Linked DNA regions of Homo sapiens: region 2 is linked to region 1. The links come from fine-mapping of genetic effects on plasma protein levels. A gene starts in region 1. The other region holds a variant in brackets. All regions are shown on one strand. Distances are from middle to middle.

What was found. A credible set is the group of variants that fine-mapping cannot tell apart. PIP is the chance, under the fine-mapping model, that this variant and not a neighbour inherited with it causes the effect. The UK Biobank Pharma Proteomics Project read protein levels with antibody pairs (Olink). The fine-mapping took linkage between variants from a reference panel, not from the people measured, so its PIPs are less certain.
Region 2: its variant is the best candidate, but not a certain one, in a credible set for the plasma level of the IL17D protein (UK Biobank, PIP 0.74).

What each region holds. Positions count from the first base shown.
Region 1 is chr13:20,702,283-20,704,782 of GRCh38, reverse strand. It overlaps IL17D (interleukin 17D), which reads right to left and starts at 1,084. Exons shown (of 2, transcript NM_001385224.1): 1 at 492-1,084. The coding sequence starts at 781. RefSeq lists silencers at 263-772, 1,063-1,202, 1,623-1,702.
Region 2 is chr13:20,716,365-20,718,864 of GRCh38, reverse strand. All of the region lies in intron 1 of IL17D (interleukin 17D), which reads right to left. Among named protein-coding and RNA genes, the nearest start is that of IL17D, 14 kb to the right of the region's middle. RefSeq lists a silencer at 1,021-1,315 and an enhancer at 1,426-2,140. The variant C/T (reference allele first, on the strand shown) is at 943.

The DNA of each region.
Region 1 (2,500 bases):
CCCCCTGTGCAGAGTACGGTCCACATCACTGTGTCCACATCACGGAAGGGTCCCCAGCTAGTGCCTTGCGGACCCATCCAACCTGGAGGAGATGAGGTGTTCAAGAGATACGTGTTGCATAGGAAATACTGGAGGGTAAAGAGAGGAAGCAGGACTCCTTCAAGGGAGGTGGTGGGGGTGGGCCTTCGCAGTTTAGGAATTGCCCCCCAGTGCTCCAACTGCCCCGCCCCACCCCGCCTCATCGCAGCGCCCCTCGCACCCCACCCCACCCTACCGTACCCTACCCTGTCTCGCCCCGCACCACCCCACCCCTACCTGCTCCGCCTCGCCCCGCGTGCCACGCCCCCTCCGCGTCGCCCCGCCCCAACCACCTCCCCTTCCCCGCCCCACCCTCCCCGCCTGCCCGGCCTCGGCCCGGCCCCACCCACTCTCCCCGCCCAGCCCTGCCCTCCCCACCTGCCGGGCCCCGCCAGGACGCGCCCGCGGCTCACCTGTAGGCCCAGGGCGACACGCTGCGCAGGTTGGTGGGCGGCCGGAAGCGGCGGTCGGCGGGCCTGCCCCCTGCCGGGCAGCTCGCGTTGCGCGCCTGCTCACGCGGCCCCAGCTGCAGCGTGTGGTGGAAGGCACTGAGCACGCCGGCCGCCAGGCGCCCGTACAGCTGCTCCAGTAGCTCCTCCGGCCGGTCCGCGCAGCCCCGCGGCCGCGCGGGGCGCCTGCCCGCCCTCGGGGCGCCCGCGGCCCAGCTCGGCGGCAGCGCCAGCAGGAAGCCGGCTACCAGCATCCAGACCTGAGGGACAGGCCACGCTCAGCGTCCGCACGCGCCGGAGGAGCCCGCCTGCGCCCCGCGCCCGTGTCCCGCCCGCGGCGCCCGGAGCCGGCGGGCGCCTCCCCTCGCCCCGCGGAGCCAGAGGCCGGCCCGGAGGATGGGAGCCGCGCGGGCGGGCCCCAGAGCGCCCTCCCCGCCTGCCCGCCGCCCGCGGGGTCCCCGGGGCCCAGCCCGGCGCCGGCCCGCGCGCCCCCGGCCCCCGCCGCCGCCGCCGCCCCGAGCCGGGGGCCGCACGGGGGGCGGGTGCGGGGCGCGCGTGCACGTGTGCGTGTGCCTGCCGGGTTGCTGCGCCGCGGGCTGCGAGTGCTTGTGACCCGCCGCACCCTCACCCCCGGGCGCGCCATCCCTGCTCCGCCGCCAGCGAGGGAGCCCCGGAGCCTAAGACGCCCGGACCCGCCGCCTCGCAGACCCACCCTTGCCCCTGCGCCTCGTCATCCGCCCGCCCCAGCCAGCCCGCGCAGGGTCCGCGGCCCGCTTTTCCGCGAGAAGCCCCCTGTGGTCTTTCCTCGTACCCGGGGACTCGGACCGAGAAGCCGACTGAGCGAGGTCGCCGCCCGGCCTCACGGACACAGAGCGACTCTGCACCTTTCGCCTCCAGGAGCTGAAAACATTTTGTCACTTGTGCAGTGTACTCACCAGTGCCCCCAACATCTTCTCCCCCGAAAGCGCTTTCAGATTCGCGCCGAGATGGGGCGACGCGGCGGCTCTTGAGCGGAATAACCCGAAGGGCCACGCAAACTGGGGCTTCCAGCCGCGAGCATGCGGCGGGGCGCCCAGGGCCTGGGGTCGCGCGCTCAGGGCCTGTGCTGCGCCACGCAGGAGGAGGAGAGGGCTGGCCCTGCCGGGCGCGGGTGCGGGCCCGACTGGCTGAAGGAGGAGTGGGGACTGGCTTGGAAGTCTCCGAAGCAGAAAAGTGGGGCCGACAGGATGGAATTGGGGGAGGCCGATTTTGGCTCAGAGAGATTTCTCTATTAAGGAAAGCAGTCCAAGAATAGGCCCCCTGGAAGAGGAATGCGCTCAAACCCAGAGGGATTCTCCTTAGAGCTACCTCTTGAGATTCTGTACTTCGAGGAAATTAGAGGTTTTTTTAAATCTCTATTTTTAATAAGGTGGGAGGAGGCTGTTGCTCCTTTCTCCTCAACAACATGAAATGATCCTGTGCCTCTATCCAACAACTCTACAACAAAGCACTGAATACTTCCCTGACTGGCACTTTCATGGCTGTTCATGGGCATCTCTTGGTCTATGACGACGATGTTGGAGAGTTCCTACTCCGTGATAACTCAGTTCTAAGTGCAAGCAGTCACGTGAAATGAGCCTGATAGTCTGCGAATGAAGAAACTAAAACGAACTATATTATATACTTCATAACACAAGACAACGTGCTCGTTTGTTCATTCTGCAAGTAAATGCTTAATGCTTCCTAGGTGGCAGGCTAAAGAATATGATCATTTTAAAGCAGTCATGCTTTGAAAATAAACAACCCATCCCAGCTGTAAGCTTTTTGAAAGTGTACAAAATATGTAATTGATGACTCCCTAAATGGTTTGCAGCTTTGGTATTTGACTGAATTGTAAACCATTAGTTAAACTACATTTCAGTTATGCTTTGTAGGAAAAACACTTTCCTATGCATTGAATGTTCTATAACTAAGGAGCTTAGTAATCTACTGCT
Region 2 (2,500 bases), 14 kb before region 1:
TGTGTGTGGGTGAGGGGGCAGGTGTGTCTGAGTGTGGGCAGGTGTGTGTGGGCAGGGGTGAGCGTGGGCAGGTGTGTGTGGGTGTGTGAGCATGGGCGGGTGTGTGAGCACAGGCAGGTGTGTGTGAGCGTAGCCATGTGTGTAAGTGGGCAGGTGTGTGTGAGCGTGGGCGTGTAAGTGGGCAGGTGTGTGTGAGCGTGGGCATGTAAGTGGGCAGGTGTGTGAGCGTGGGCCTGTGTGTGGGGGGCAGGTGTGTCTGAGTGTGGGCAGGTGTGTGGGGGCAGGTGTGAGCATGGGCAGGTATGTGTGGGTGTGTGAGCATGGGCGGGTGTGTGGGTGGGGGGTAAGTGTGTCTGAGTGTGGGCAGGTGTGTGGGGGCAGGTGTGAGCGTGGGCAGGTGTGTGTGGGTGTGTGAGCATGGGCGGGTGTGTGAGCACGGGCACGTATGTGTGTGAGCGTTGGCGTGTGTGTGTAAGTGGGCAGGTGCGTGTGAGCGTGGGCATCTGTGGGCGTGTGTGTAAGCATGGACAGGTTGCGTGCTCACACGCACGCGGCATGCAGCAGGCTGGAGTCATGGTGAGCTATTCGAGAGGTGCACAGGAGCCCTGGAGACCACAGCAGTTAGTCTGTATGTGATCTTGCTCCTGGAAACTCATGAAGGGCACCGGGCAGCTGCACACACGTGAGATGTGGTTTTGGAAAGGCTGTCAGAACAGTACCGAGGATGTGCCGCAGGAAAACCAAAGGCGGGCGGGCGGGTCAGGCATTCCTCTGTGGACTCAGTCTCTTCACGGGTGGGGTGAGTGACGTGAGGGCATCGCCCGGCCCTCTGAGTTCTCGTCACCTGGGACTGGTCTTTCCGTGCCCTCGGTATGTAGGTAACTGCTCATATTTCACCATCGTTTGGGTTCTTCATGAACAACTGTCACTCAGGCGTCACCC[C/T]CGGTAGTTTTGTAGGTGATAACTGACAGTCACTTGGATGCGGTGAGGGTCAGAGTTTCATCCGCCTAAAAATATACAGCGCAGCCCTGCACTGGACTTGGGACTGAAATTGCCCCCGCCGCTGGGATGCCTCTGGGCTAAGTAAGGCCTCTGACAAGACACCTCCCCCCATGGCTGCGTGGGCCATGGGAGATCAGAGGCATGAACAGGGGCGGGTTTCAGGCAGTTCTCTCACAATGGGAAGGTGCCGCTAAGGGGGGTGCCGCGCATCTACCATGCCCTGCTGCCCAGGGCGCGGGGGCTTGAGGCCTGCAGTCCCAGAGAAGCAGAAAGACAAGGCCTGTGCCTTTGGAAGGATCCAGCGGGGGCCTGGGAAAGAGGTCATGAGAGAAGCCCTAGGGCCCTCGCTGGCACAGACTCAGAGCTGAAGTCCCTCACCCCAGCCTCCTGCCTGCAGTCTGGGGACATCAACAGCTAGGTGTGCTTTTCGGTTAAGGAAAGCTGCCACCAAAAAGAAACAGCAAGAAACTGCAACGGGAGCCTTTTCTCTTACCAAACACGGACAAGCAACCGAGCAGAGTTCTGCCCTGTGCCGCGCCTCCTGTGGGCAGTCATTCTTTTGTCTTCACATTTTCTGCGTGCTGCTCTGCAGAAGCTTGGCACCAGGGCATTCTTGAAACACATCAAGTTTTCCCCTCTGATGGGATCGCAGAAGTGTCCCTGGCCACGTGGGAAGCTTGGCTTGAGCGAGTGACAGGTGGCCCGGCTTAATCCAGGAACAAAGGACGAGTCCTCCAGGGATGATTAGAGGTGATGGAAACTGAGCTGGGAGAGGAATGTAAGTGACAGCAGAGACAGAAAAAGAGCCCTGCCCCTGGGGCCGGACGCGGTAGGAAACAATTTGAAGCGGCTCCGGAGCTCTGAAAACAATGAACACATTCCGAGGGAGGATCGGGCCACCTGATGTGTCCTCTAACTGATGCCCAAGGATAGCTGGGGCGCTGGTTGGCACACGCGCCTTGATGTGGCTCACCCTCCCACCTTGCAAAACATGAAATGATTTCAGAGCAGCAGGGGCTCAGGATGACTGTTTATCTCACAGCAGTTGAAAGACCCCATCCCAGGAACAAAGTGGGGGCAATGCCTTCTCCAATCTTGGCTAGAACCCACAAGCACCGAAATGTGTCCGTGGAGACAGCCTGCCTCGGTAGCGTGGCTCGCCAGATCCGAAGGTCAATGAGTTCAACCCAGCAGACTCTCTTAAAAGGGGAGGATGCAGCCATTAAGAGTCTGGGACCTAAAACTGTAGCCCAACTTAGTCACCACCCAGTAACCTTGGGCAGAGAACTCCACCTTGCCTGGTTCTTTGCAAAGTGAAGGAGATGGATTTGATGAGCACTTCCCACAATTTCCTAACGGCAGGACTGATCATGTGACATTTTCACCAATGTTTTATGCTTAGAAAAGACACTGGCAATACATTGAGTCTCTAAGGTCTTGGAAAATTCCAATTAATCTATAAAGTCAGTGCAATTCTAACGAAATCCCAGAAAGATTT